4 separate regions of the Homo sapiens genome follow, and regions 2, 3 and 4 are each linked to region 1. Evidence: fine-mapped expression QTL. A gene starts in region 1. Each other region holds a variant in brackets. All regions are shown on one strand. Distances are from middle to middle.

Region 1 (8,110 bases):
GATTAGAAGCCTTACCTAAGCTTGTTAATCACAGAGCTAAGATAAGAATACAAGCCTTGGATTCTTACTTTGGTACCTTTTCCAAAATCCAGTAACAAACTGTTGGTGACTGAACTGTCTCCATTTCTCTGCTGAGATCAGCCCCTAGGAGACTAAGAACAAACTACTGGGTGGAGGCATAGACTCAAGCAAGGACTCATCAATTCTGCCTTTTCATGCTTCAACAAACAAATGTTCACAGGACTGCTTCTGACTTCCCAGTTTAATAAATCACTAGAACAAAAGCATTCATAAATCACATTACATTATCCATTATAGCACTTACCCAGTAGTCCCTTTGTGGGTCCTTTAATGTTACTATTTAGTTTCCCATATTTCCTTTTCTTTACTAGCAGAAAGTCCAGATGCTAATTTAGACCTGTCTCAGGCTCTCTCTTTACCTTGGAAGGGAAGATCTCAGGCACATACACAGCTTGGGTATGTCCAGATTTTTTTTTTCTTCCAGGGAAGTGGAGATGCAGGTAGTTTGTGAGATGAGGGAGAATCTCCTCGTAAGCTGATGGACATTTCTAATAGCTGTGGAAATGAAAAAGTGAACATCATTATCAAATCTAACAAAAATAATAATTCCTTAATATCCTCTAATATCTACTCTATATTTAATTTTCTCCAGGTGTCTCAAAAATATCTCTTTTACAGTTTGTTTGAATCTAGATCCAAACAATGTTAACATATGCATTTGTTCAATGTACTCTTACGTGGCCAAGCATGGCCTGTAATCCCTGTAATGCCAGCACTTTGGAAGGCCAAGGCAGGTGGATCACTTGAGGCCAGGAGTTCGAGACCAGCCTGGGCAACATGATGAAACCCCGTCTCTACTAAAAATACAAAAAATTAGCCAGGTGTGGTGGCACATGCCTGTAGTCCCAGCTACTAGGGAGGCTGAGGCAGGAGAATCACCTGAGCCCGGCAGGCTGCAGTTGCAGTGGGCCAAGATCGCGCCACCGCACTCTAGCCTGGGTGACAGACTGAGACTCCGTCTCAAAAAAAATATATATATATATATAAATATATATATAAATATATAATATATATATTTTATATTATATATAAATATATATATTTATAATATATATATAAATATATATAAAACTCATATGATGCTATTAAGAAGATCCAGTAAGGATATGGGAAACTTTAACTTCATTATTGCCGAACTATTTTCCAAAGTGATTGCACTAGTGTCACTCCTATAGAGTTTATGAGAGCTCCACTTCCTCTCTCACTTTTGGTATTGTCAGATATTTTTTTTGAGACAACAGGGTCTTGCTCTGTCACCTAGACTGGAGTGCACTGGCATTATCCTGTCAGACATTTTAACTTTTGCCTATCTGATAGTAATGATAGTAAGCCTCGCTCTGTAGAAATATGAGCCTAGTCTTCAAACATGGCATAATAGTGTTTTAGATATTAACATTACATGCTCACTGGAGATAATTATATACCCCCCATACCATCTGTAAGTCACTGTTTTGGCTCCTATGTCAGGATCTTTTTATTAAATATTAACAAAAGAATGGCCGGGCGCAGTGGCTCACACCTGTAATCCCAGCACTTTGGGAGGCTGAGGCGGGTGGATCACGAGGTCAGGACTTCGAGACCAGCCTGGCCAACATGGTGAAACCCCCATCTCTACAAAATATACAAAAAAATTACAAAAAATTAGCAGAGCGTGGCGGTGTGCGCCTGTAATCCCACCTACTCGAATCACTTGAACCTGGGAGGCAGAAGTTGCAGTGAGCCAAGATCGCGCCATTGCACTCCAGCCTGGGTGAGACTGAGACTCCGTCTCAAAGAAAAAGAAAAAAAAAAGAAGACAGGTTATTATGTGCTATTTAGTATTACCTAGAAAGGATATGACTGGCATTGACTTTTCCCTCCTGAGAAGATACTTCTAACATATATGAAACCCAAGGGACCAGATATTGGATCCACTGTGATGAGTGTCAGAATTCTTGTAACCTCTTTTTTCCTTATTAGTATCTGTCATGCCAGGTTGTTGGCTCTGATGATGTCATAATGCTTTGTTTGTAGGGTCATCCGATGCTACTGTTTCCACAGGAACAATCAGCTTTTAGGCAAAGTGAACCTTGGACGGTAAAAGCTGATCTTCTGAGGTCATAGGAATAAATATATCTCAAAGAAAATACACTGGAAACTTCTTCTTTAAGTTTTCCTCTTTCATTGGAATATGTGGGTTTCCTCACTGTTGTAATGTTGATGACACAACAAGGCTAACACCGGATATGCTTCTGGCTGATTCCGGTTTACCAAGAGCATCCAAACATCCCTCAAGGACACAGTCATTTTGCACAACAAAGGGAAACTCCGCTCATTTCTGGCATTAAGGTGGACATCTGAGAAAGGGGAGGGTATACCACCATAACTTCTCTAGTGATGAATAGTGTTTAATATTATACCATAGACTAACTGGCGTATTTTAAAGATCTTTTTCCTTTTTGAACACATTTCAGATTAGAGAAGTTCCAGAGAACGTAATCTATTTTAAGAGTGTGAAAGAGTGATATTCCACATTGCTTTTATATCTTAAAGAAATTTCTAAAAAGAAAGCCGAGTCAATAAAATGACAGATTTTAAGCCTTCATTCTGGTAACATAAAAGCCTTCTACTCATTGTGTCTGCCACCTTAATTTTTAAAGATAGAGCATGAGGTGTAAGCTTTTGGCTTCCATTTTCCTCTTATAAACCAATGACATCTTCAGTTCCAGAATAGCTTTTTAAAAACGTGACTTCTGATAAATGTTGGCAGAACTGGTGCATTCCTAAAATAAATTATGTATGCTCAGCTTTCCCTACCCAAGTTCATCCCTAAATGACCACAAAACTGCCCACCACGAACTATGCTTAAGAGAAGTCTGGACATAATGGTATAAGTGTATATAACACGACATTGGTATATTTAAAAAAAAATTCATGCCTAGGGTCAATTCTGATAATCAAATTTAGACTGCTGCAACAACCGTAACTATTGTTGATATATGCGCAGTTTAAAAGTGAAGGGCGGGGGTAAGGGGCAGAAACTGCACACAACAAACTTCCAAATTTTGTCTCCCTTTTCAGGCAAGTTTCAGCTCCACAAATCTAAATACCCTCGCCTTTAAAATATCAGTGTCGTTCTGCTCTTAAATCCTCATCCCGTTGTACAAGGAAACCTATGTCTCTCTTCCCCAAATTAAGAATACGAGAAGCCTTCCAGGTCTGCAAATACCAGAAAGCAGCTGCGCATGAAGTTTTATGGGGCCCCAAGGCTCTGAGAGTGGGCTTGGAGGTATGGAAAACACATCCCAAGGGAAAAATCTGTGAACCGCACAACTGTGGTTGGAAACGAAATAGGAAAAAAACTGCGCGGAACCGGACGTCATCAGCATTTCGCGGTACACACGAAGAAAACAACCGTAGTCGGGTCAAAACTGGAGCCGTGTCTCCTCAGTAACGAGAGTAAATGGGGGCCCGACGCGTGAGCGGCCAGCCGGACTGAGACAGAAAGTACTCAGAGCGCCATTTACCGCGCCCTCGCCCCGCCCCGTAGCCCCTCCTCCCGTCCGCCCTGCGCGCCAGCCAATCCCCTCGCTCCATCCCCTTCCCATCGCAGACCCCGCCCCCGCGCCCGGGATGTTGAGCCCCCGCGGCGTGACGCGAGCACGGCAGCTCCTCCCCCTGCGTCTCTGGCCTCGCCGGTCTTGGGGGGATGGTTCCATCATGGCGTCAATGCAGGTGAGAGGAGTTTGCTGCATCTGGGCGGGCCAGGGAGCCGCCGAGAGAGTGCCAGCGTTCGGGCGGGGGTGGCGTCCGCGATTCGGGGACACCCGGGCGGGTTCGGGATCGGTCCGGGTGGCCTGTTTTCCCTCAGCTCAGGGCGTCGGGGGAGGGGTAAGAGGCGGCGAGAGGCGTTGTGGGGGGTGCGGTATCCGTCGGTCGAAGCGGACACCAGCCGGCCGGGAAGTTGGGTGATAAAGGAGGGTTGGGGAAGAAAGGGCAAAGTCTGGCGTTGGCGGTCTCAGAATCGGCTCCCCGCACACACACACGGGCGCTGCCAGTCTGCTGCCCGCCAGCCCCAGGGTTGCCTTTACCCCCGCTGTCCCTGGCCCGACGGAAACAGCTGCGCCCGCGGTTGTTGCCGGGGCAGGGGCGGCGGGGGGCTGAGTGTGCGGGAGCCGAGAATGCGTCTCCGGAGAAGGCGGCTGGCTGCGGACGGCGCTTAGCGGCCTCTGCTCCGGCCTCCCACGCCGGGCCCCCCAGACTGCTCGGCCCCGTCCCTCTCTTCTTCCCTTTGACTCTTAATCCTGTGCCCGTGGGTATCTTCTATTTCCATCAGCCTCGGTATTCTCGCGGACATTCCTCCAGCAGTCCACTGTCTCCTTCCTCTCGAAGCTGCCCCGTGTCCACCGCCTGATGGGCGATCTCCCGAGAGCCGAGTCCTCAGCCCCCTTAAACCTCTCGGGATAGCTTGCCTTCTATTTTGTTTCCCACTGCAAGGCCCCACCCTTGCGGTCGCGATAAGGCTATACATCTCTTTGCCCTTATTCCCAGACCTTTAGTGGAACCTTAGTTTGGTAGGAGGCGTTTGTTAACCTGTGCCATATCCCCCCGACTTAGCAAGGCGTGGTTTTCTGGCTTTCCAACTTAATTTACTCCTTTTTCCCGAATCTAGGGAGTTGTGGGTTTTTTTGTTTTTTGTTTCCAGGCAAAGATGGCAACCACAATTGTAGTTGTGCAGGGATTGAGTGCGTTATCTGTAGCCTGCATTTAATTCACAGGTGAAGACTAGCGGTATCAAAGGCATTGGAAGAGAAAGTAGAACGCTCAATAGGAGTGTCAGCTGAGTACCCTTTAGCGTTTTCATAATATCCCCTTGGGTAAAGAGACCACATTTTCTTAGAAGTGTTTTTTGCTTTTGTTTCTGGAAGAAGCAAGTCTCTGTTCCTCCTCCATTTTTTTTTCTTTACTCTGCTAAAAGTGTTTTTCTTCCCTTTTCTGCATCTTCTTCCTCTTTTGTACAAATATAGCTTTGCTTCACATTTACTCCTGTGCTTTTATGTTATTCCCCTTTCAACCTGTTTTCCTTACAATATTCTCTTTACCTTGCTTCTCCCTCTGGACTTGCCTGCAGAACAGAAAAGTTTTATGTAACATTTCTAGTTGAAGAGATATCACGAATGGTGCAGGGAAAAAACAGGAACAATTTCAGGAAACATTATACTTTACACTAGTCTCCCCAGAGACGTTGGAGAAGTTTCGTCATTTGAGGCCAAAAAAGGAACAGTGGAATGCTAGTTGAACAGTAGATGCAATAGGCTACATTACCACTTAAAGATTTTTATCTGTGTTAAGATTAAAACATTTTTTATGACAAGTTTAAGATTATTATCTGTATTAAGATTAAAACATTATTTGAGGCTAAACATTAAGATTAAAATCCACAACACTTGTATTTGACAAGAGAACGTAGTGTGTCATCTCGTTAGATTTAGTATCTGGAAAAGGCAGATTTGTTTGTAAGAGAGAGGTTGGTAATCTTGAACTTGAACTTTACATGGTGTCTTTTTTCTTTTTTGAGATGGAGTTTCGCTCTTGTTGCCCAGGCTGGAGTGCAATGGGGCGATCTTGGCTCACCGCAGCCTCCACCTCCCGAGTTCAAGCGATTCTCCCACCTCAGCCTCCTGAGTAGCTGGGATTACAGGCATGAACCACCACGCCCAGCTAATTTTGTATTTCAGTAGAGACGGGGTTTCTTCATGTTGGTCAGGCTGGTCTTGAACTCCCGAACTCAGGTGATCCGCCTGCCTTGGCCTCCCAAAGTGCTGGGATTACAGGTGTGAGCCACCGTGCCTGGCCTACATGATGTCTTAAGAATTGGAAACAAATACTTGATTGACAGTGCAATAGTGCATTTTTCTGTGCCCTAAGTATTACTATCTCAGACTCTTACCACCCTTTTAAGTTTTTCCTTCACCTTGTTCCATCGAAATCTTATCACTCTCTATTCTTCTGTGTTTTCTGGTTAGAGGAATGGAAAACGGATGCTTCCTATATTTATTGAAAAGTCTTTCCCTTTTTATTTGTATTTTAAAATATCTAGTGCAGATTTGCTGGTAGTATCTTTAAGAATATTTTAATATATATGTCAAGCTTTTTGAAAGACAACCCTACTTTCTGTGTGGTTATTCTGTATCTTTGTTATACAGAATTTATATCCTGACTATCTTAATGGCAACATTTGGCTCTTTTAAGACAACTAGATTATACATAAATCTTCAATAAAATTATCAACTTTGTTTATTCACTGAGCCAGTTATCTTTTGGGGGACCTCTATGTGTCAGACACTTATCTAGTTGCTGTGGTTATAGCAATGAACAAAAGCAGACAAGATTTCTGCCCTCATGGATTTAATAATAAATAGTCTCATAAGAAGAGACAGATAAGAACAGCATATTTAAGTTAATTGTGTTTTGTTCTTGTTTTTTGTGTTGAGATGGAGTCTCGCTGTGTTGCTCAGGCTGGAGTGCAGTGATGCCATCTTGGCTCACTGCAACCTCCGCTCCCAGGGTTCTAGCAATTCTCCTACTCAGTCTCCTGAGTAGCTGGGATTACAGGCGCTGGCCACCACGCCCAGGTAATTTTTTTTGTGTTTTTAGTGGAGACTGGGTTTTGCCATGTTGGCCAGGCTGGTCTTGAACTCCTGACCTCAGGCGATCCACTCGCCTCGGCCTCCCAAAGTACTAGGATTACAGGTGTGAGCCACTGCACGCGGCCAAGTGTGTTATTATATTAGAAGGTGATAGTGCAGTGGAGAAAAAGCATGGAAGAAGACTAGGAAATTGATCATTTGGGGATTTCGATTAGGAAAAAATAAGCTGTAACATGGAATGACCATGTCCTTAACCCAAAAAGCTTTTAGTAGATTTATCTAACCCACACCAGGATGTTGCTGCTGCTGCTGAAGTTACTTAAGCTCTAAGAGGAACTGTATTTTTTTTAAAATGCCATATTATACAAATGTAACATGGGATTTCATTACTTGGTAATGAGTAAAACAAGTAAGGGTAGACTTTGAATTTCTTATTGGAGAGTATGTATTTTAAAGTTGAGCTAGTAACTGCTTTAATGTATTCTGTCAGTGCGTCTCAACCATCTTTTAGGTTCTGCCCACATAGAAAGTAAGTTTTGAATAGTACACTAAAGTAGATGAGATTGGGAGGCTAGAAGCACCTGGCAGGCAGCACCTCATGAAACTCCCGGGATGGGAGATCAATATTCTGGCACACCTGTAAATGCTGGGGACGCTCTACTCCCTAATATTGCTAGAGTTCTGCCATATACAATTCAAGATAGTGGTTTTCAGACTTATGTGATCCCTTTGAGACATTCTTTACTCATTTTCTTTTTTTCTTTTCCTTCCTATTGTTTCTTCCTAGAAAAAAGTAATGTATCACCAAGTAAGATTACAGTTAAATTATGTTTTAAGAAACCTTTTCTTTTTTGGAGACAGGGTCTCACTGTGTCACCCAGGCTGGAGTGCAGTGGCGCTGTCTCGGCTTGCTGCAGTTTCAACCTCCCTGGGCTCAAGTGATCTTTTCCATCTCAGCCTCCTGAGTAGCTGTGACTACAGGTTTTTGTATTTTGTAGAGACAGGTTTCACTATGTTGCCCAGGCTGGTCTGGAACTCCTGGGCTCAAGCAGTCACCTGCCTTGGCCTCCCCAAATCCTGGCATTACAGGCGTGAGCCTATGTGCCCAGTCTTAAGAAACCATCATTAAGAGAATGTTATATTTGTGGTGATACCTAAAATTGATAGGAGTTAAACAGATCTACATTTAATTTTGGTAATTCTAAAAATCTTTAAATATTACATGAAAAGTTTCTTGTAGCAAATTTTTAGTTTTAGCGTTTTAGGGACTGATTATTTGGTAGAAACTTTTATCCCCAAACTGCAGAAGCATTCTTTTATTGAAGTGAATTTTTATGTGATTCTAAACATTTTTGAAAGTGTAGCAGTATTGAGGTATTCTTTTCTCAGGTGAATCCTAA
Region 2 (8,110 bases), 72 kb after region 1:
ATATGTAATTATTTTTATTTGGAGGAAGGATTTATGCTTTTTATTTGAAAATTATAGGGAATTTCATGTTTAGTAATAAATTGGAAAGTTATTTTGATACCTTTCATTCCAAATAGAAGTTTTACATGTTGAATGGGGTAGAAGCCAGACTTACTGTTTTATATTCTTTTAAACAGGAAATGTACGGTATTTTCTTAAAGCTGATTTTATTCCCAAAAGCATGCACAGGTAAAAGTATACAAGAAATTCTTTTTGTAGATTTCACAGTGGAAAGCCTCAGAAAAGTGCATCATAGCTTCCTTCTCCCCTCTGCCAGCTCCCACCCGATCAACCTGTTTCAGGGAATTTTTCAGGAACCAGAGCTTCCCTGTCCTAATGATTAGGTTGAAGGAGGAAGACCAGTTTACCAGTCGAATTTTCAGGGCGTTTCTTCCTGTTCTCCTTTATTAATCCACAGATTCTATGTCTGATGGAAGTGGGGGGAAAAAAAACAAAAAGAAAAAAAATCACTTAATTAAACTTAAAATGTAGGCTGGGCACGGTGGCTTACACCTGTAATCCCAGCACTTTAGAAGGCCTAGGCAGGTGAATCACCTGCGGTCAGGAGTTCGAGACCAGCTGGCCAACATGGTGAAACCCTGTCTCTACTAAAAATACAAAAATTAACTGGGTGTGATGGTATATGCCTGTAATCCCAGCTACTCAGGAGACTGAGGTAGGAGAATTGCTTGAACCCAGGAGGTTGCAGTGAGCCAAGATCATGCCACTACACTACAGCCTGGGTGACAGAGCGAGACTCCATCTCAAGAAAATAATAATGAAATAAATTTAAAATATACATATAAATTTAGGATACCCTTTAAATGTATCTGAATCCTCTGTACACTTCTGACACTCTTGTCATTCCTGCTTAAGGGTTAGTATAGCATAACATTTATGTATTTCTACATTTTAAAACCCCTCTTAAATCCCTATGAGGGTTTTCCTTTTGCATTCTGTTTAAAGGAGAAACAGCTTTGCCCTAGAGGTTAGGGAGTTATTTGTGTTTTACAGTTTTCTTTCCTTTTCTCCAAATTGAACTGATTGTCATTTTTATTAAATTAGTATTTGGAGAACTTTTAAGATAATAGTTCATTTTTTAATGATAGGTTATTTAGAATCTGAAGCACTCTAAGCCACAGCATGTGAAATAATAGGTTAAATTGGTTTTGTTTTGTTTTTTTACTCATTTGTTGCTTATTGCTGTTATATTTTCTCCTCTCACCCACCCCCAACACACACACACGTTTTAAACTTTTATGTGTAGGGCAAAGCAGTTTGTGGGTACAAGGCCTTCTATGTTCCTGTTACGCTTAAAGACTATAGAAAGGTGAGACGGTAACAACAGTATTTAATAAGAAAGTTATTAAGAGATTAATGTCAGCGATATCTGTACATAGTCTTGCATGTGCCTCATGATTATTAGATTTTATTTACATTTAAATATAATGATTTATTATTAAAAACTAGAGAATGACTATATTCTGTGTACTTCCTTCATCTTCCTCTAACCCTCACCATTCCCCTTACATTCTAGTTGTCTGCTACTAGTGTTTCTTGTACACTTAGTATAAGACTAATCATTCCATTTAAAGCACTAATAAACTATGTTTTTACTGTAATAGTTGTATAATATTTAACCAAGATGATAATACAGAAATCAAGATTTCCATGAAATACGATAAAATTCAAAAAACATTTACTAGGTACCTAGTATGTGCTACTTTTACTGTGCTAAGTGATAAGTTACAAAGATGAAGAGGAAATTTGCCTTGGCATTGAGACGATCTGGCATTAGAGAGATCTAAGCTCCAAAGAAACCTTAAAAAGTGTTTTAGGCCAGGTGCAGTGGCTCACGCCTGTAATCCTACTACTTTGGGAGGCCGAGAAGGGTGGAGCACTTGAGGCCAGGAGTTCAAGAGCAGCCTAGGCAAAATGGCTAAACCCTGTTTACTAAAAATAGAAAAATTAGCTGGGCGTGGTGGCGCATGCCTGTAGTCCCAGCTACTTGGGAGGTTGATGCACAAGACTTGCTTAAACCCAGAGGCTGAAGTTGCAGTAAGCTGATATCACGCCACTGCACTCCAACCTGGGTAATAGAGCAAGACTCTGTCTCAAAAAAGAAAAAAGAAAAGTATTTTAAATACCCATCTACACGTTTTATTATTATTAAAACGGGTAAATTTTATTCCGTAGTGGACATGGTTCTATGGGCTTTACTTTGTTAATTCTACTACTATTAAATATTTTACTTTAGGTGTTTGGGACTTTAGTCATAATTCTTCTATTCCAATTTCCTTTTACACAGTCAGGAGTGGTTCCATAAACTGAAGGTATTTAAATCCAGTATGTCATTAGATTGTAGTGGATTAAAGATAATTTCTGATATTGAGATCACAGGACTTTCAGTAAATTCCACTTTATTTGCATGCCTTTGTAATATATTTACATTGTTCAAACTTTTCAGTTTGTATCCCATTCCTAAAACAATTTCGTAAGACTTCTTTTGTATAGTTTCTTTTCCAAGAACTGTATCTCCCTGATCATTTGTCAGGGAGATAAATGATTTAAGCAAATAGAATTGAGTATTTCTTTTTTCTAAATATGTATTTTTTGAAGACTTTTCTGATGATTCTTGGGTTCTAATCAACATATACATAAAATGAGTTTGTGAAAGTATCTGCTCTAGTAGTACCAATTCCATATGAACATAGATTTAACTTTGTAGAATCATCCCTTCCTTGAAGTAGTCAGGCATCTAATTTCATAATATTCATTTTTTAGGAATTTTCTCAAATTGTGTCCACAGATTGACTTGGAATACCTAAATGTCTTGACTGTCTTATGCTCTAATGTTTCTTTTTGTTAAATGAAATTACTAATATTAACACATAAGAGCATTGTGAGGCTCAACTAGACTGATAGTTACATATATGAGTTTTAGAAGTGCCAAATGGACTAACTGTTTTCCTTCCTGCTATCACAGAGTCCTACTCACGATTGCTTTCTGGTTAGACTTTCCTTAAATGATGTCATACCAAATTCACTTATTTTCATTAGCCTCAGGTAGAGGAGAGGATTCCCTTAATCTCTCATTTTCATTAGCTT[A/G]GCTAAGCAGATTTAAGTCTGAAAATAAATCCTGCATATACACTATACAATATTTAATGATAGGAAAATAATCAAGTTATTGGAATGATTCCGAAAGGCATAAAGGAGACTAAAGGATAAGGATATCTATCATAGTATCTATAAACTTTAATATAGCTTTAATATAAATTTGATGTTTCCAAGTCTTTGTAGAGGGTAACATTTTCTTTTGTCTAGGCAGTATGCAACAAATTTCAGGAAAAGTCTCTTCCATAATATATCTTCAGTGTTGTTGGCATCACTTTATCTGCGGTAGCTCCCTTGCGGAGCTGCCATATATTTCTCATATATTGTTCTAGTCAGGGCATATGTTCAGCAGAAAGGCCAATTATAGTAGAAATGCCAATATATATTTTTCCCATTTTTTCTCTTAAATATTGTTTAGAAACTGAATCTTCTGGTCTATCTTTGATGGTATTCTATTACAGTAAAAACAGTTCTTTGTGGAGGTTTGTACATTGCTATACTTCTCCCAACAAATCTAGTTTAGTAGACTTTTCTGTTTTGTTTTGAGACGAAGTCTGGTTCTGTCACGCAGGCTGGAGTGCAGTGGCGCAATCTCGGCTCATTGCAAGCTCCGCCTCCCAGTCTCACGCCATTCTCCTGCCTCAGCCTCCTGAGTTAGCTGGGACTACAGGCGCCCGCCAACACGCCCGGCTAATTTTTTTTTTTTTTTTTTTTGTATTTTTAGCAGACAGGGTTTCACCGTGTTAGCCAGGATGGTCTCGATCTCCTGGCCTCGTGATCCACCCGCCTCGGCCTCCCAAAGTGCTGGGATTACAGGCGTGAGCCACCGCGCCTGGCCCTTTGTTTTATTATTTATTTATTTTTTGAGATGGAGTCTCACTCTGTCACCCAAGCTGGAGTGCAGTGGCACCATCTCGGCTCACTGCAACCTCCACCTTCTGGGTTCAAGCAATTCTCCTGCTTCAGCCTTCCAAGTACCTGAGATTACAGATGCCCACCACTGCGCCCGGCTATGTTTAAATTATTATGTGAATTTGACTTTTCTCATCAGTCCTTTTTCATTCCCTTTATAATTTATTTAATTTTTTGTTTGTTTGTTTTGAGACGAGAGTCTCGCTCTGTTGTCAGGCTGGAGTGCAATGTCACAATCTTGGCTCACTGCAACCTCTGCCTCCCGGGTTCAATCAATTCTCCTGCCTCAGCCTCCCAAGTAGCTGGGATTACAGGCACGCACCACCATGCCCAGCTAATTTTTTTGTATTTTTAGTAGAGACTGGGTTTCACCATGTTGGCCAGGCTAGAACCTAACACAGACCACACTCAAACACGCTTATTATTCCTTTTTTAAATTTAGGTGTTAAGCATACACATTTCCTGGAATACATTTATAGTTTTTATTCTTTTAGATATACTATTCATGTTTATATTGTTTTTTATGCATTCTGTTAATTTTTCTTAAGCTTTTATTAAAACTGTCACCCTCTCAGTTTTTCTGTTTTTCAACCTATTTAAATTATTTTTTGTTTCAGAGACGACCACCGGATAATTCTTTTTATGTGCGAACATGTAACAAGAATCCAAAGAAAACAAAATGGTGGTATCATGGTAAGCAGTTTGAATTTGTAATAACTTTTTAGCATTTTGATATGAAGATTATATATATTTGCTATAAGACTTGGGAAAAAGAAGAGAAGCTATAATTGGTGTTATATTTATGTTATATGAAGAAAATTCTTTAAAATATTCTAATATATTTAATGGATGAATTACCCTAGTTTTTTTTGTTTTTTTTTTTTTTTTTGAGATGGAGTTTTGCTCTTGTTGCCCAGGCTGGAGTGCAATGGTGTTATTCTTGGCTCACCACAACCTCTGCCTCTTGGGTTCAAGCGATTGTCCTTCCTCAGCTTCCCAAGTAGCTGAGATTACAGGCATGTGCAACCACACCCAGCTAATTTTGTATTTTTAGTAGAGATGGGGTTTCTGTGTGTTGATGAGTCTGGTCTTGAACTCCTGACCTCAGGTGATCTGCCCACCTGGGCATCCCAAAGTTCTGGGATTACAGGCGTGAGCCACCACGCCCAGCACTACACCAGATTTTTAATGGGGCAAACAAAATCATAGCCATCATAAAAGTAAAATGTAAAATTACTTTGACATTCGGAGACTCTACCATTGTATTACAGAAAAGAAGTTGTTAATAATCTTTAGATCAAATTAGAACTATTTACTGGGAGCCCAGGCATGGTGGCCTACGCCTGTAATCCCAGCACTTTGGGAGGCAGAGGTGGGCAGATCACTTGAGGTCAGGAGTTCAAGACTAGCTTGGTCAACATGGTGAAACTTCGTCTCTACTAAAAGTACAAAAATTAGATGGGCGTGGTGGCTTGCAGCTAATTCCACTGGAGGCTGATGCATGAGAATCACTTGAACCCTGGTGGCGAAGGTTGAAGTGAGCTGAGATCACGCTACTCTACTCCAGCCTGGGTGACAGTGATGGAATGAGACTCTATCTCCAAAGGAAAAAAAAAAAAGAACTAGTTACTGGGAAGTCTGTTGTTTGAAATAGAAGTTTTGATGCCTTGTTTGTTCATTTAGTTCTGGTAGTATTCATGGCCGGGAGGAGGCGGGAGTCACAGTAAGGGGTACCTCATTAAATTAGAAAGCTCTCTATTCTAATCATTATCCCTTAAAAAAAAAAAAGTGAGATTCTGCTGATTGTAGTTGTATTAATAAAGTACTCTCTAATTTTAAATTTCTATTGTATTTGTTGGGATGGTAATGATAATTCAGAGCTGCTAGTATTTCTAAACTAACCTTAATGCTTCCCTGAAGAGTTATTTGAAATTAAAAACAAAAAGTCTGTATTCTTCAATGTAGTTTTTGAAGCAAGTAAACAAAAACCATCCCCTGTGATTTTTGTATACATAAGAGTATTGCCTTTGGGGTTTTTTATGTGTGTGGGTTTTTTTTTTTTTTTAATGTTAACCTGATAATAAATTAGAACTAGCAAAAACTAATTGAACTATGACCTTCTCCCCGTATCTTCTATCCAGTGTGAAGCCTTCTGTATCCTCACCTAAATTGAGTGAATTAAAAACTTAAAAGTTCCCCAGGTGTTGAACGAAAAGATGACCCGAGTCAGTGCAATAGAACTATGCCAGTAGTTAAAAATTAGAAAACACAAAGAAGTGGCCGGGCGTGGTGGCTCATGCCTGTAATCCCAGCACTTTGGGAGGCTGAGGTGGGTGGATCACGAGACCAGGAGATTGAGACCATCCTGGCTAACACGGTGAAACCCTGTCTCTACTAAAAATACAAAAAATTAGCCGGGCGTGGTGGCAGGCGCCTGTAGTCCCAGTTACTCGGGAGGCCGAGTCAGGAGAATGGCATGAACCCAGGAGGCGGAGCTCATAGTGAGCGGAGATCGCGCCACTGCACTCCAGCCTGGGCGACAGAGCAAGCCTCCGTCTCAAAAAAAAAAAAAAAGAAAAGAAAAAAGAAAACAAAGAAATATGCTGTTCCTGAGAGACAGAAATGTGAAAATTTGGGGTAATATCAATAAGAAATACATATGACTTAGAAGAAGAAGAAAATGGCAAAACTTTAAGAGCTGTGAAATAAAAATACGTGTATTTTACAAACTGTAGGTTCGATGGAGTTCATTACAAATCCAGTGAATGATTGTGGGGGTGGGAAGGGAGATAGGTGTTTGAAAAGTTTGGGAAAAAAATAGTAGATGAGAAGAACAAAGTTTGAATTTTGAGCCATAAAGGTAATGGAGAATTAATCTACCAGACAGGACACTAAAAATACTAATAGAAGAACAGATCATTGAAATACAGTTCCTCTTATTTAGGCCCAGTTGAATATAACATTTGAATATATGATAAGGCATTACAAATCAGTGATAAGGGGAAGGATTATTTAGTAAGTAATCATCTTGGAAAATCTGTAATCCTTTGGAGAAGGAATATTTTCACTGCATAAAATATTTCTTGTGGGTTCAGTATTTGTATTTATTTATTTTTTATTTATTTTTTGAGATGAAGTCTCGCTCTGTTGCCCAGGCTGGAGTGCAGTGGCGTGATCTAGGCTCACTGCATCCTCTGCCTCCTGGGTTCAAGCAATTCTCCTGCCCTCAGCCTCCCTAGTAGCTGGGATTACAGGCGCGCCACCATGCCCAGCTGATTTTTGTATTTTTATTTTTATTTTTGTTTATTTATTTATTTATTTTGAGACGGAGTCTTGCTGTCGCCCAGGCTGGAGTGCAGTTTCGCAACTTCGGCTCACTGCAAGCTCCACCTCCCAGGGTTCACACCATTCTCCTGCCTCAGCCTCCCGCGTAGCTGGGACTACAGGCGCCCGCCACCTCGCTCGGCTAATTTTTTGTATTTTTAGTAGAGACGGGGTTTCACTGTGTTAGCCAGGATGGTCTTGATCTCCTGACCTCGTGATCCACCCACCTCGGCCTCCCAAAGTGCTGGGATTACAGGCATGAGCCTCCACACCCGGCCAATTTTTGTATTTTTAGTAGAGACGGGTTTTGCCATGTTGGCCAGGCTGGTCTCGAACTCCTGACCTCAGGGTGATCGCCTGCCTCAGCCTCCCAAAGTGCTGGGATTACAGGCGTGAGCCACTGCGCCTGGCCTATTTTTAAAATATAACCAAAAAAATGTTTTTTTTCAATGTTGGGTATCAGCTCTCTGGAGAAAGGAAGAATTTCTGAATTTAAAAGGAATCACAAAGAAATTAAACATTCAATTATATGAAAATGTACAGCTTCTTTAACTTTAAAGCACTATCGTTATAAAGTTTGAAAAAATTTTGAAATGTTTATAGCTTATTAAAAATAAACCGTTTATGAAAGTTACTTAAGGATAAAAAACAAAATAGGCAAAAAAGTGCAGCTCAGTAAAATAATTACCAGTTTAAGATTTTGAAACAGTTTCTGAATCTG
Region 3 (8,110 bases), 85 kb after region 1:
GTCCCTGGGGATATCCAAGGAGATGGGTTTCCATGATAGTTGGAAAACTATATGATAGTTTTTATTCTCAGGAGAAAACTAAATGACCTTCTTCTAATATAGTTCTTTCTCATTTACATTTCTCAGAAGCCCAGTGAAGTTAGCCATGGTAGGTGTCACCTCTTTGAAACTGGCAGCTTGTATGTTATATTTGAAAGTGTAATTTTAGTAGAGGCTTCTGAATTTCCAGGAAAAATATAAATGGTTAATAATTAGATTTTTCTTCAGGCCATTATCTTGTTACAAATGCTTTAACCAAGAGATTAAATATACCATTCTTTTACCACCTTTTGTCAGCCTGTATTTGTCTTGACCCAAAATGGGTTACTCTGATTTTTTTTATTTTTTATTTATTTATTTTTGGTTGGGGGGTGAGTTTGTCCTGGTATCCAATAATACTTTCATCTGGCTAGCAAACTATGTTCTTTCTAGTAACGGATAAGTTTTTTGCTTCTTAGTTATGGCCATCCTATTTAGAAAAAGGATGGCGATGGCTTTGGCTCATAGTTGTATCTATACTTAAAGTTTGCTTATAAACTCTTGATTACATATAGCCATCATGGATTCGTAGTCCCGCAAGTCCCTGTTGATCTAGCTGTTACAGATCATTTGTTTCTTCAAAACGAGGGTATTCAAAGGTGGGTAGTATCATATCAGTCAGAAACAGGGATTGGGATCTGGAAAGTAGCTTCACAAAGATTTCCTAATCATTTTGGTAGCACGTTCTACAGAAAACCTACTATACTAAAAACCTTCTGCAATGAACAAGTTAGTAAATAAAGATGCATTTGTGCTACCACCTGTCAAAGATGGTATGTCTTTGGAGATACAAGTTTATTGGTAGTTAACTGGATAACATTATGTTCAAATTGAATTTTATCTGTCACTTTTCTTATTGTATATATTGTTATCTTGTATCACCTTAAAATTTATCCCCAGTAGTTTGACATATTAGGTAGAATTTTAGTGCCATCTTTTAGCTTAGAGATTTGAGTATGATTAGTTTTAGTGTTAGTTTCAGCGACCAACCCTATTGTTACTCTATTGCAGAAGCGATGTTTTAAGGAACTTATTAATATTCCTAAGTTTGTTTTATATCCATAACAAGTATATCTTCTCTGTCTGTTTCAAGTACCACAATAATTTAAAGAACATCCCCCTTTTTTTTTTTTTTTTTTTTTTTGGAGATGGTGTTGGCTAGGGATCACGGCTCACTGCAGCCTCAACCTCTGAGACTCAAGCGATCCTCCCACCTCAGCCTCAGCCTCCCAAGTAGCTGGGACTACAGGCATGCACTACCATGCCAGGCTAATTTTTGTATTTTTTGTAGAGGCAACATTTTGCCGTATTGCCTAGGCTGGTCTTGAACTCCTGGGCCCAAGCAGTCCATCCACCTCAGCCTCCCCAAATGCTGGAATTACAGGCGTGAGCCACTTTGCATTGCCAAGAAAATTGTGAGTGAACTTTAGAGGATATAAACTACTTGTTTTCTTAAAGATACTATTCTTATTTATTTTAAGGCGTCTAATGAATTAGGGATGATTTATTTTTAAACTCCAGTCTGTTTCCCCCTTGAAATTACTGGATCATGGAATACTCTATGAGTTTGCCCAGCTTAGAAGTCAGATTTTACTGGTTTTTAATTAGCAGTATATCAATTCTAACATGAGATAGTGTATTAATCTGTTTTGTGTTGCTCTGAAGAAGTACCTGAGACTAATTTATGAGAAGAGAAGTTTATTTGGCTCACAGTTTGGAAGACTGTAGAGAAGCATAGTGCTGGCATTTGCTTCTGGTGAGGCCTCAGGAAGCTTTTACTCATGGTGGAAGGGTGAAGGGAGAGCAGGCAAGTCACATGGCAATAGAAGGGAGCAAGAGACAGGAAGGAGGTCCCAGCCCCTTTAACAGCCAGATCTCATGTGAACTAATGACTGCAAGGAGGGCACCAAACCATTCCTGAGGGATCTGCCCCCATGACCCGAACACCTCCCCATTAGGCCCCTCTCCAACATGGGGGATCACTCATTTCAACATGAGATTTGAAGGGGCAGATATCCAAACCATATCAGTCTGTAAAATATTTTGACTAGGATTTCAGAATTTTTTCCTTGAGTGCTTTCACAACTCTTGGCCACCAGTCTTAGTTTCTTTATGTAGCTTCCTTCTGAAGAATAACTCATCCTCAGAATAAATCTTTCAGATATGTTTTGTGAAATAAATTTTGTAAAATAAATAATCCTAAAGTTGTCTGTGTTACATATATATGTGTTGAGGCTACCAGAAGTTATTATTAAATAATTTCATGAGTTTTTTAATGACCCCATTTGCATATGTATCTATACTTGCTGAAAGCTTATTTTCTTTTTTTTTTTTTCTTTTTTTTTTTTTTTATGAGACAGAGCCTCCCTCTGCCTCTCAGGTTGAAGCGATTCCCTTGCCTCAGCCTCCTGAGTAGCTGAGACTACCGATGTGTGCCACGACGCCCAGCTAATTTTTGTATTTTTAGTAGAGGGAGGGTTTCACCATGTTGGCCAGGCTGGTCTCAAAACACCTGACCTCAAGTGATCCGCCCGCCTCGGCCTCCCAAAGTGCTGGGATTACAGGTGTGAGCCACCGTGTCCGGCCTGAAAACTTATTTTCTAAAGGGAAATTAATCTTAACTGTTTATTGATTTGGAGATTGTATCTCATTGGTAAAGAACAGTTACTTCCTTCACAGTCTAAAGACAAATTGTGTATTATTCTGTGTTAAATAGCATGGCACTGTTGATCAGGAGTTTACTTCTGTCTCATTACAATGTGAACTTGTTGCCCATAAAATAATTCTCTTAAGATTGATACATCCTGACTATGTACTAACATGTCATGTCAGTTTATTATTTTAAATAGAATGTGCTAATAACATATCATTTTAAGGTTTATGTGAACTATTTCTCTGAAAGAATAAAAATTTGTCACTGTATAATTGAACATATATTGCACTTTGTATTCACAGGTTTGGGGGAGGCAGATCAGACATGTAAACTATGTACTTCTTGCTAATTGAAATTATTTCTACATTAAACAGACTTGTAGAATTTACTTATACATGCTTGACTTTTTAATTATCTTTTTTCTCCTTTTCTTAA[AG/G]ATGATACTTGTTGATGCCACTGTTATCATCCTCCTAGCAGAAGATAGTCCTACTGAGAAAATGAGCACTTTGATCATTCAGTCTTTGAACTTTAACCTTTGACTGGAAGTGACCTATAGGCAATGAAGACTACTTCCTTTTACTGCATTTTTACTCGTGTGCATTCTGGGCGCATGTTGATCGCTGGTTCAGTCCAGGCAACTGACATGCTTTTATTAGTCATACAGTATTAATGCAGGTGTCAGGAAATGTCAAATATAATTCCATTTTTTATTTTTATTTTTTTAAGCTTTTGGAAAAGCTCCAGGTCCTCATGTATTGTGCAATAACAATGACTTCCTTGGCGGTTTTGGTACGTTCATTGCCGGCAATGGGCGTTGTAACAGGAAAAGTTTTCATTAACTCCTGCCATTCAATGATTAATGCATGATAGGGCCTATGAAATGAACTTACTGGTTATAGTGGGAATATAAATAAAGTGAGGGATCCAACATTACTTTAAAAGTCACCCCAACTGTTTATATTTGGATTCTATGCACTGTGATCCTAAGGTTAACAGCATGAATTAACATGCGTCTTTAAAGGACTGTAATGAAAGATCATTGCATATTTATTGAATTGTTTATATCTACTGTCAAGTTGTTTTGACATGGAAGATTTTCAAGTAACATTGGCAGAGAGGTACAGTATGTTATCCCTATGGTGAAAATAAATTAATTTGTTGTATATAGTTCCTCAATCTCTGAAGTAAAGGTATGAGTAATATAGGGTATGAATGGTTTAATCAAGGCTTTATTTTGGAAGTAAGAAAAATGGCAGTGATGATTAAATTGCTGCAGTCCATAATTTGGGCTTGTTATTTGTACATTAAAGATTTTTTCCAAGTAAGTTACACTCTGTTAACTTCCTGCTAGCCATCAGCATGAGCCCTACTGCCTAAACACTATTTCATTTATTTATGTTTGGAAACCCCGTAAACATTTTTGTTTGCAATCTTGTTTCTTTTGTTATAAGTCAAGTTTGAATGTTACAATACTTTTATTGAAACTTTTGTTAAGTTTTTTCTTGTAAATTTTCTTTACTTGTGAGTATCATCTTGTCCTTTAATCCTGTACCCTAAAATAAGAAATACATTTTTGACAGAGGCTTAATGTTTTAACAAAAGAGTGTGGACATTTTTATTTTAAAATTTAGGCAAAAGTCACTATCAAATGGTTGCTTATTTGTCTCACACAGCCATATAGTTTTTCCTGGAGGGTTTTGTTTTGTTGTTGTTGAAAAGACTTTGCTTACAGCTAGATGAAACTTTCTATAGAAAAAAAAAATTGTTGAAAGGTCCAGTTCTCAGTACCATGTGAGTTAATGATACTACAACTAAGTTCTTTTTAAAAAGTGATTAATGTATTTTATAAATTACCTTTTCACATATGCAAAATCTGTTTCTACTACAATGTTATTTTTACTAATGCCTTATTGTTGCACTCTTTTTGAAATATCCTGCAGTGAATATATGAATCAATTTGGGCTTAAAACTGAAAGCCAGTTGGCTGAAAGGTTTGAAATACGTACCCCAGTAAAACCATTCAATCAATAATTGGTAAATAATATTTTAAAATTGTTTTTAATCTGTATAGATGACATTTTGTAGCTTTGTACATGTTGTTAATTAAGGGCATATAATTTTACACTCAAAGTATAATTGCTGAACTCAGGGGTGGGTAGACTTCAAAAATATGTCTGCTATAGAAATAACTTGAAAAAAAAAATTAAAACCGTGGCCAGCCACCAAATTGTGGACACTGTTTATATACTGCTAGTTAACAATTACCACTTTTAAAAAATTATAACCGTTTTTGTTCTATCTTGACTAGATAAATTCTCACAATGATCTCTGTCAGTTTTATTAGTTGGCCTGTTTAACCAAGACAGAAAGTCTTTGAATTACTCATAGTTTTAAACTGCTTTTAATATGAAAATTGCAGCTGTAAATTATGTATTTTCATATTTTGCGTAACTGCTCTACACTACTGTTTGACTTGATCTTCTTCTGGGGGTTAGGGAGAAATCTGTCTCCATATTGCTGGTTCTCTTACCAAAATGCTTTTATAAAGAAATGACCGGTGACATTTATTCACCAAAGGAATTAATATACTGAGTCAAAGATTAACAATGCTATACTATAGAGTAATAGGTCATATATAGCCTCAATTGAGTTTTTTATGACAATATTTTAACATACCTCTCTCTCTACATATAAATACCATAAAGTAAACTAAAATGACACAGAGGAAAGTAGAGGAAAATGAAATAATTTCGGTACATCTTATGGTTTAAAGAGTAGAAAATAAGATGAAATATCCTAAAATATAGGAGCACAGACATTTAAAATTCATAATCAGGCTAACAACACTCTCTTGAATTTAGGAATCATTGAAAACTCCTTGCACTTAGATTTAATTTATATGTTAGTTACATTATTAAAAGTCATAAGGCATTTATCTGAGTCATTGCTCTACAGAGAGCAATTAATGGCTTGTAATAATAAAAAGAATATTTCTCTGTAATGCATTGTTGAAAGACAACCAGAATATCAAGAAAATGTATATAGGAATATGCTACTTGCCTCCTCCCTGCATTTCCTCGTGGGGCACTATTTGCGACATAGGCCTACAGAATTAGACTTTCATACTTAGAAGATAAGGTACACTCTTCTTCTTTTATTTATTTATTTATTTATTTTTAGGCCATTCTTCTGGTTTGCCAAATTCTATTAAGACAGTGATACATTTGCTTCCTTATTTATGCATGCTTAGATCATGAACATGATGCCCTTCTTTTTTTTTTTTTTCTTTGGTCAAGTAGGGATTAATGCCATAGGTTTAGAGAGAAGGATTGTTTTCAGTTTTTAAGAGAATTTTTTAAAAATACATTTTATGGTTCTCTTAAGGAATTAATATTCACTTCTGAAGGACTTACTTGTAATATATAATTTATCATTTTAGCCAGCAGGGAAATAAATCATTTTTAATCCCCAGAAGAAAGTGCTGGAAATAGCTTCTATATAGTCAGCAGTTCACCTGGAGAAAGATCTTAATTCCTTGTTGTTTTGACTAGGAATATCAATATTTGGTATAAAATAACTAGAATAGTTTATTACCTTTTCCCTCATGAAATTTTAAATATATGCAAATATATATATCATTAGATTCCTGTGGTGGATAATAATTTCTTCAGATTCTAAAACAGGTGTCTAGTGACTGCTTAATTGTTTCCAAGTTGCATCAAAGATGAATTGGTAAATAATGGAAATGAGTAGTGATATGAAAATGGTTATGTAACTACATATTACTTGTTTCTGGTAATCAAGTCTTATTTTTTAAAAGCCTATTGTTTTTCAGAATTGAGATATTTAAAACTTGTTATAACTTCTTCCTAAAAATAGAAGAGAAGAGGAGGTACTGTGTGTTACAAAAATTTTTTTAAATAAAGAATTCAGTGTCACTAGTTCTAAGCCTTTATGGTTACTGCTGCTTATATTTCTTGATCTCACTTTCATTAATTTTTTTGTACATATCTTAGCTGAATGCTTAAAATTTACAATTATTTGTAATTGTGTATGTAAATTGCTTTTCAAAAAGAACTGAAGCTTAACCATATTCTTCTTTTCTGAGGATTCATTATCAGAATCAGCTACTATACTGTTCTGTGTTATAGTAATGCCGTTACTGCCTGTGCATGATTGAGGTCTGTGAAGAAGGTGTCTTTTAATCTGCACCAACTGGCCCCAATCCTCTTTGTAGTCCTTTTTAAATTGTTTTAAATCTGTCCTTTATTTTTCTTCCTATTTTTCTGCCTCTTCCCACTGATGTCCAATGTGTCAGTCTTCCGCAGTTTCCTTTTCTCACTTCTAATTTATTCTCTCTTTTTTTTTTCTGAGGTTAGGGATTCTACAGAAGGACGATTATTAAAATTATGCCATGAATTTTTGAAAAATTTAAAATGCTCTCCTACAAATAAAATACATGGAGTTTCTGATACTAATTTCAGTTTGTCAGTAGATGGCTAAATTTGTTGAATAATTGACTACTTGGTAAATGAGCTGTTAGCTGTAATTAGTTCTTTAGTACTAATATTAAGGAAATTTTGTTATTTTCGGATGAGGACTCTCCCAAAGCCAAATTATTGTCCAAGCAAATTATTTATTTTTTCCATTTAAATTTCTAAGTCATTTTGAGATGTGGAATGATTATTTTTATTATTTATTTATTTATTTATTTTTGAGACGGAGTCTTGCTCTGTCACCCGGGCTTTAGTGCAGTGCACGATCTTGGCTCATTTCAATCTCCACCTCCTGGGTCTAAGCGATTCTCCTGCCTCAGCCTCTTGAGTAGCTGGGATTACAGGCATGTGCTGCCACACCTGACTAATTTTTAGTAGAGACAAGGTTTCACCGTGTTGGCCAGGCTGGTGTTGAACTCCTGACTTCAAGTGATCTGCCCACCTCAGCCTCCCAAAGTGCTGCGATTACAGGCATGACCCACCACACCCAGCCTGGAATCATTTTTTAAAAATAATTTGTGGGAGACTTGCTTTCTCAACATAAATTGTGTGTGGGTTGTTTTTTGTTTTTTGAGACGGTCTTCCTCTGTTGCCCAGGCTGGAGTGTGCAGTGGAACAGTCATTGCAGCCTTGACCACCTTGGCTCAAGCAATCCTCCTGCCTCCCGGGTAGCTGAGTCTACAGGTGTGTGCCACCATGCCTGGATGGATAGAATTTTTTTTTTTTTTTTTTTTTTTTTTTTTTTTTTTAAAGACACGAGGTCTCACCATGTTGCCCAGGCTGATCTTGAATTCCTGGGCTCAAGCATTCCTCCTGCCTCAGCCTCCCAAAATGCTGGGATTACAGGTGCAAGCCACCATGCCTCGTCTGTTTGCCGATTTAA
Region 4 (8,110 bases), 28 kb before region 1:
CCAGTATAGGCTGAATTCATTATTTGCTGAGGGCCCTGGTTCCTCTGGCTAAGATTAGGCCTAGATATTTGACTTGTAGGCAGATCTGGGCCTTTGATTTAGACACCTTGTACCCTTGATTAGCTAGAAAGTTCAAGAGATCTAGAGTAGCCTGCTGGCATGAGGCTTCCGAACTGGTAGCCAAATGTAAATCATCCACACACTGAAGGACCAGAGTGCCTGGACTTGAGAAGTAGCCTAGATCTTGGGCCAGTGCCTGACCAAACAGATGAGAGCTTTCCCTAAACCCTTGAAGAAAGACCGTCCACATAAGTTGGGATGTGTGGTCTGTGGGATCCTCAAATGCAAAGAGAAACTGGGAGTCAGAGTGCAGGGGAATGCAGAAGAAGGTATCCTTGAGGTCCAGAACAGTGAACCATTCTCCTTCCTCTGGTGTTTGAGAGAGTAGGGTATAGGGGTTGGGTACAGCTGGACATAGAGGAATTACTGCCTCATAAATGAGTCTAAGATCTTGCACTAGTCTCCACTGACCATTCAGTTTTTGTGCTCCTAAAATTGGGGTTGCAGGAACTGCTGCATTCCTTACTAACCCTTGAGCTTTTAAATGTCAACAATATCCTGTAATCCTTTATGAGCTTCAGGCCGGAAGGGTATTGCCTTTGATAAGGAAAAGTGGTGAGGTCTTTTAGCCTGATTTGAACTGGGGTGGGGGGCATTTTTTGCCTTTCCAAATTGTCCTTCCAATGCCCAGACTTCAGGGTTGATTCCCTCCTCCAGTAGGGGACAACTAATGGGTAACTTGTCCCCCATATTCATGTAGCTAATAGCTCCAGCTTTGGCCTAATAAGGGTGTGGGACTTTCAGGCATAAAAAGAAAGGCATGTGAAAAGAGCAAAGTCTTCCAATTACAACCAAGGAGGTGGGAGAAATACCTGGTTACAGACTGTCCCAGGATTCCTCAGATGGTAACGGACTGTGAGGACAGCTGTCCGGGTCAGGAGATTAACACTGAGAAGGCTGTGACAGTGTCCGAGAGGAAGTCAATTTCCTGGCCCTCAATGGTTAAACTTACCCAGGGCTCAGTGAGGGTGATGACATGAGCTGGCACTTGCCCCAGTTACCTTCAGTCCTGTTGTTGGATCATCTGGTTGGGGGCTTCGGGCCCAGAGAACACTTGTCCTCTGGGGCAGTGTGCCTTCTAGTGATTGCCTTAACATACTGGACATGGGTGAGGGGGTGGCTTGTTTCTCATTGGAGAATCTTTTTTAAAGTGTCCCTTCAAACCACACTGATAACAAGCCCTACTGGGTGATTGGCCTGCTCCATTTTCTGTCCTGTCTGAACCACCAATGTTTGTTTGTCAGAGGGCCATGACTAAGGCTGCAGCCTTTCTCTTATCTTGCTTTTCCTTTTCGGCCTGTTCCTTTTGGTCCTTGTTATAGAACACTGAGGTTGCCAGGTTTAATAATTCCTCCAAATTTTGTTCAGGGCCCAGGGCTAGCTTTTGTAGCTTTCTCCTGATATCTGTGGTTGATTGGGTAATAAACTTATTTTTTAGGATCAATTGACCCTTGAGGGAGTCGGGTGACAGGGAAGTATATTTTCTTAAGGCCTCCCATAGCCACTCGAGAAAGGCAGTAGGATTTTCTTCCTTTCTCTGAGTTATGGCGGACATCATTGAATAATTCATGGGCTTTTTCCTAATTCTTCTTAGTCCTTCTAGAACACAGGTCAACAGATGTTTGCAAATCCAGTCCCCATGATCTGAGTCAAGGTCCCAGTGGGGATTCATACTGGGGACGGCTTGCTGATCGGTAGGGAATTTGTCCCTTTCTTCAGCTGTCATTCTATCATTTACTCGACTAAGATACCAGGTATCTTCAAACTGTCAGGCTGCAGCTAAAGCCGCATTCTTTTCATTAAAGGCCAGGGTTTGATCTGACAGTAGCATGTTATCTCTCCAAGTAAGGTCAAAGGTTTGCCCTAGACCCTGTAGGACATCTATATACCTATCAGGATCATCTGAAAACTTCCCCAGATCTACCTTGATCTGCTTTAAATCAGAGAGGGAGAAGGGGACGTGTACCCGGGTTGGGCAAAATTCCCCTCCCCCTACAGCTTGAAGGGCACATAACCAATAGCCCAGGGGTTTTTGTGGTCCCTTGGAGATTTCTTTGCTTGTTTCCTTCTGGGTGGGAGAGATTAGAGGAGGCTGATCATTAATAGGAAGGGGACCTGTAAGGAAGCTAGGATGTAGGGGTAAGCTGAGAGGTCCTCCTGTGGAATGTAGATTGCAAGCTTTGTGTAGTTGTGGATTATCCTTCAATGAAAAGAAAGTTTGGACATAAGGTATTTCACTCCATTTGCTTTCCCTCTTACAGAAAAGGTCAAGCTGCAGGATAGTATTGTAATTTATACTTCCCTCAGGTGGCCATTTTTCCCCATCAGAGAGAAAATATTGGGGCCAGGCTGTAGTGCAGACAAAAATAAGCCACTTCTTTTTCAGGGTTTATGGGCCAAATTGGTGCCAATGGCTTAGGATGCATTTCAAGGGTGAGCTTGTTGATGCCTGAGTGTTTCCCATCTAAAACAGAAAGAAAAAACCACCCGTGGTTTTTGTCTGTTTTTCCCCCCACCCAAGAACCCACAACAGTCCCTGGACCCTGCCGTTTGGAATAGTTGCGCTCACTGAAGCAGCAGTGGAAACCCTTGTTTTCCTCCTACAAAGAGGAAGGTCAGATTTAGTGGCCCTTACCGACACATTCTTGAAAACCTGTACACTTGCCTTTCCTCTTAGACCACAAGAGGACTGAGAAAGGTCAGATTTAGTGGCCCTTACTGATGCATTCTTGAAAACCTGTTAGAGTCCTAAGTGTTTTTTCCTGTTGTTATTGGGACCTTACCCTTGTCCTATAAAGATGACATGCCTCAAAATGGAGTGGAGGGCCATAACTTGAGGGAGGGAAGGGATCTCCAGGGTTGGAAGGGTGACGCCTTTTGTTCTCACTTCTCATCATATGAATAGGAAGCATATCCCCCCAATTTAGGAGTCTATAATTTCTGAGGCTCCCCATATGCTAGCTTTGGGAATAGCCTTTGTTAGTTCTGCTAGTCTGAGGAGGGATCCTAAAAGGATAGACGGTATTCCAGATAGTCCCCCCTGACGGGGCTCTGGTCAAAAATTATGTGCCCCAGGGTGCTTATTTCCCATTGAACAATTTGGGTTCTTTCTGATTGGTGAGCCTGGGTGCCTAAAGAAGGGAACAGAGTCCCAAAATCTATATTAGAAATCATCCTTATAGAAGAAACTAGGGAGTGATTTTCAGAAGCAGGACTAGCCTCAGAGAAGAGAGGCAACAGGAAGTTTGTCTGACAGGCGTTAGGACCCAGGAGGCAATGGTCATGATAGATAGGATAGATAGGCGAGTCTCACTTGGGTGACGTAACTTTGAGAGCTCTGCTCAGGGCTGCAGGGACAACCAACTTCTTCTTGGGACCCCAGAGCT[G/A]AATGGCTTTCCTCTCTGTTGACCCTCAGCTCAGCCTAGAAGTGCAGGAAAAGTGGAAGCTGGTTCCAGGCAAACCAACGCTCCTGATTCCGAAGAGTCGGGGGTTGTTGAAGAGCCCTTTCCCAGATAGCCTGAAACCCATGTCTTTAGTCTGGCAGCGCACTAGTCACTTTTAACTGGCCAACAGGTGCCCGGTGTTTAGCTCCTGAATTCTAAGGAAAAATAGGACAGAATAGCAAGTGAAAGGGGTCCGATGGTACCCAGACCATTGCATTGCAACATCGCAGACGAGCCCCCAAGATGTGTCCAGAGTTGTTTCCTGCCAGTGGGTTCGTGGTCTCACTGACTTCAAGAATGAAGCCGTGGACCTTCGCACTGTGTGTTACAGCTCTTAAAGATGGCACGGACCCAAAGAGTGAGTGGTAGCAAGATTTATTGTGAAGAGCAAAAGAACAAAGCTTCCACAGCATGGAAGGGGACCCAAGTGTGTTGCCACTGCTGGCTGGGGTGTCCAGTCCTTATTCCGTTATCGTCCCCTCCCATGTTCCATTTCTGTCCTATCAGAGTGCCCTTTTTCCAATCCTCCCCATGATTGGCTACTTTTAGAATCCTGCTGATTGGTGCATTTTACAGAGTGCTGACTGGTGCGTTTTACAGAGTGCTGATTAGTGCATTTTACAGAGTGCTCATTGGTGCGTTTTATAGAGCACTGATTGGTGCATTTTACAATCCTCTTGTAAGATAAGAAAGTTCCCCAAGTCCCCACTTGACCCAGGAAGTCCAGCTGGCCTTACCTCTCACTGGGATTACAGGTGTGAGACACCGTGCCTGGCCAAATTTTGTATTTGTGTAGAGACTGGGTTTCATCATGTTGGCCAGGCTGGTCTTGAACTTCTGACCTCAGGTGATCCACCCGCCTTGCCCTCCCAAAGTGCTGGGATGACAGGCATGAGCCACTGCACCCAGCCTGAACACATTTTTTAGCAGCTGGGCAACAACAGATATCAGAAAACACTTGCCATTTATTTATAACCTAAGCAGCATCTCTATATACTCCCATCTCCCAGCATTTAAAGTGTTTGGTGTAAGTGCCAAAGTTGTGCATTTCCTGGGACAAGTCAAACCATGGAATTATATATATGATCCCAAAACAAAAAGTGTCAAAAGTGATTCCCATGATCCCAACATAACTTATCCAGAGTTTCTCATCCTATGGTGGAACATGTTTACCAGCAACGTTTTACCTCTGCTTCAACAATTTGGCCTTGTCAAAGACACCTGCTCATATGTAAATGTGGAAGATGTCTCTGGAGCCATATCACATCTGTCCCTTGGCGAGATCCCAGCTATGGCACAGCCTTTTGTATCCTCAGAAGAATGGAAGGAGCAGTGGGAACAGGGCCAGGCTGATTATATGGGAGCAGATTCCTTTGACAACATAAAAAGGAAACTTGACACCTACCTCCAGTAGAAACACTGCATTTTCCTGTGGATGCATCCACTTCACAAGCCTTGTTTCAAATACTAAGTATCTAGAGCTGGGCTGAGAAAGTCTGTTACAGTTGGCAGAGGTTTTCACTAAAATTTATCAGATGAGAGGTTTTTGTAGGACAACAGGTGAGAACTGGGCAAAAGTTGTGAAGCAGCAATTCTGTTATATGGACAGTGTTCTGCTTTTTAATCCTATTTAGCTCATTTCAGAAATTCTCACTTTTGTTGATTGCCAACATACAAGGTAAGGGAAACTTAATATTAAGCTGTTAAGATGACTATAACAACTCTTAAAATCTGCAGAGCCTGGTTCCCAATCAGTCATGCCCTTTGGAAGCAGACATGGCATCTGTCCCTTGCTTGCTTGCTGGTTGTACCTACTTTTCATTAGACCTGCATTTTAGAATTGTCCAGTGCTGCCAGAGTCAGTAATTGTAGTTTTGCTTTCAGGTAAAGATAGCCTATATTAACACTATTGAGTGATTCATAAACGTATCAACAAATAGCATTCACTCATTTTATTTCCTGCTCTTAGTGTCTGAAGATGTTCACCAGTTTTCTATGTACAGTAAGATACCATAGACACCATGCTAAAATGCTTTTGTTCAGTTCTGTTTATTTGAAAATAGCAGTGTGTTCTCTGATGGTTACCTGTGGTGGCACCCTGTATGAAAAATGAAGAAAAATAAAATAAAGGATGTATCTCTCATTTTGTAGAGATGTTAAATAATTAAGCTTGTTTGATGTATTAAATTTATAGAAAGTCATTATTACTGTCAAATAATAAGTCATACTAGATTTTTTTCAGTTACATTTATGGGTATATTATTGATATAAATTTTCTAGAGTAATATAGAATTCTTAAAAGTCTAGTATATCATCAGTCATAATTTTGGTTATTAGGTTGTATGTCTCAAAAATGAGTACATTTACTTGTCAATTGCTGATTATAATGAATGTTCATCAGATTTTAAACATGGCTAGTCTGTCTCTATCATCCATGGTTTTGATTTTTCTCTAGTGGCATCTAATCAGATTCATGGAAAAGATTCTAACAAGTATTCCTAAGACAAGTTTCTAACAACTTTAAGATCAATAGACTAAATAAAAGTTTTCCAAAACTCTGATAAATTCACAAAACTGCTAATTAAGATCAAAGGAAACAAAAATTAATTTCATGAAATTGAATAACTGATGAAGATAATGTTTTTATGACTTTTATTTTAAAACTTGGTTTTTTACTTAAACTTTTTGTTTTCCAGATTTAAATAAATTTTCTTTTAAGCTATCTATAGTTTACAGCAATTTGGTAAAGTATACTTTTTGTGAACAAAGGTGGAAGCATGTGCTTTTTCTCCCTACTTGATCCCTCCAAAATTCAGAAGTTATTTGTGAGTTTTCTTATGGCAATATGGTTATTTGCATAAGTTCAGTAAAAATCTGTTCTCTCTTTATAACAGGATACCATTGGAAATATGGGTTATATTACCAATGCCTTGACTAAAATATCGTATTTAAAAGCGTGAATAGAATACCTGGTTTCAAGAGTTCTCAGCCTTACAGTGACATGAGTAAACTCTTATCACTTCCTGGCAGGCCCAGGAACCTTCACACTGGAGGAAAATCTAAAGTCTTCCTTGGTTTTGGCTTCTTAGCCCCAAGAAGTTTTTAAATCTGACATTTCTATGTGATCAATGTAGAGAGGAAATATTTCTAAAAGAAAAACTATAATACACCTGTTATTAGATTGTAGCCCTGTGCATTGTTTTTGAGTTCTTATTATCTACCTATAGCCAAGAGTAGATTCTAAATTCTTCTACATTCCTCCAATCCAACTTTCTTCCATGAAAATACTAAGAACAGGGCCGGGTGTGGTGGTTCACGCCTGTAATCCCAGCACTTTGTGAGGCCAAGGCAGGTGGATCACTTGAGGTCAAGAGTTCAAGACCAGCCTGGCCAACATGGTGAAACCCCATCTTGACTAAAAAAAAAAAAAAAAAAAGCAATTAGCAGGGCATGGTGGTGTGTGCCTATAATTCCAACAGCTACTTGGGAAGCTGAGGCAGAAGAATCACTTAAGCCCAGGAGGCAGAGGTTTCAGTGAGCTGAGATTGCGCCACTGCTCCAGCCTGGGAGACAAAGCAACACTCTGTCTCAAAAAAAAAAAAAAAAAAAAGAGAGAAAATACTAAAAATCAGAACTTTTCTGTTCCCGAAGCCCCATAATTCAAAACTAGATGAATTTTAAGAATAAGTCTTATGACTGATATATGGACCACATAAAAAGTTCACCACACTGCTCAATGCCATCATCAGAGATATTCATACTGCAAACCAGGATATTTTCATGCTATAGACCGCTTTTCTCAAGAGGTCAGAACAAGACTCCATATCATGAGACTCTTTTCTTTTTTCTTGTTCTTTTCTTTTTTTTTTTTTTTTTTTTTTTTTTTTGAGACAGGGTCTCATTCTGTCGCCCAGGCTGGAATGCTGTGATGTGGCGTGATCTTGGCTCACTGCAACCTCTGATTGTTGGGCTCAGGTGATCCTCCCACCTCAGCCTCCAAGTAGCTGAGACTACAGGTGTGCACCACCGGGCCCTGCTAATTTTTCTATTTTTAAAAAAGATGGGGTTTCTTTATGTTGCCCAGGCTGGTCTCAAACTCCTGGGCTCAAGCGATCCACCCACCTTAACCTCACAAAATGCTGGGATCACAGGTGTGAGCCAGTGTGCCCGGCCCATGAGACTCTTAATGCTTACCTTTCCACTTGACAGGATAACAGTCGTTTGATTCATTCAATTGGTTGCTTTTAAGCCTAGTTCATAGCTCAAAACCATTATGCTAACTGGGATTGTCATAACACTATTAGTTTTACTTTATATTTTACCTTTTAAAATTTGTATCTGTTACCTGTTAAACTTTTGCAGAAGTACAACTCCTAACAGAATAATTCTGGTCCTGAACTTTGAGGTTATAGCAAAAACTACAGAACAGACAAAATTGGACTTAACAATAAACTCCAGGTACACTTAGCCTGACAGCCACTCTTTTCAAACCTCCGTTGTTGCTCAAATGTGCCTTCAAAGGTTTTGACACTGACTCCTAGTCACCA

Which allele goes with the higher level. Positions count from the first base shown, and alleles are read on the strand shown. Sizes are in standard deviations (SD) of each study's normalised expression. Not every link is listed here.
For the expression in lung of the gene that starts at base 3,741 in region 1, G is the low allele of the variant in region 4 and A is the other (small effect, 0.37 SD a copy in GTEx).

Evidence for each region. PIP is the estimated chance that this variant, and not a neighbour inherited with it, causes the effect.
Region 2: its variant is the best candidate, but not a certain one, in a credible set for the expression of UBE2W in whole blood (INTERVAL, PIP 0.75).
Region 3: its variant is the best candidate, but not a certain one, in a credible set for the expression of UBE2W in thyroid (GTEx, PIP 0.74).
Region 4: its variant is the best candidate, but not a certain one, in a credible set for the expression of UBE2W in lung (GTEx, PIP 0.51).

Annotation. Positions count from the first base shown.
Region 1 is chr8:73,874,493-73,882,602 of GRCh38, reverse strand. UBE2W (ubiquitin conjugating enzyme E2 W) reads left to right here and starts at 3,741. Exons shown (of 6, transcript NM_018299.6): 1 at 3,741-3,795. The coding sequence starts at 3,781. LINC01617 (long intergenic non-protein coding RNA 1617) reads right to left here and starts at 3,621. Exons shown (of 3, transcript NR_147034.1): 1 at 1,906-3,621; 2 at 441-576; 3 at 1-273. RefSeq lists silencers at 3,509-3,798, 3,939-3,988, 4,009-4,268 and enhancers at 3,655-4,532, 5,009-5,058.
Region 2 is chr8:73,802,299-73,810,408 of GRCh38, reverse strand. UBE2W (ubiquitin conjugating enzyme E2 W) reads left to right here. Exons shown (of 6, transcript NM_018299.6): 5 at 4,683-4,758. Among named protein-coding and RNA genes, the nearest start is that of STAU2, 60 kb to the right of the region's middle. The variant A/G (reference allele first, on the strand shown) is at 3,148.
Region 3 is chr8:73,789,174-73,797,283 of GRCh38, reverse strand. UBE2W (ubiquitin conjugating enzyme E2 W) reads left to right here. Exons shown (of 6, transcript NM_018299.6): 6 at 3,169-8,110. The coding sequence ends at 3,182. Among named protein-coding and RNA genes, the nearest start is that of STAU2, 46 kb to the right of the region's middle. The variant AG/G (reference allele first, on the strand shown) is at 3,167.
Region 4 is chr8:73,902,221-73,910,330 of GRCh38, reverse strand. It overlaps the pseudogene GYG1P1. Among named protein-coding and RNA genes, the nearest start is that of LINC01617, 27 kb to the right of the region's middle. The variant G/A (reference allele first, on the strand shown) is at 3,507.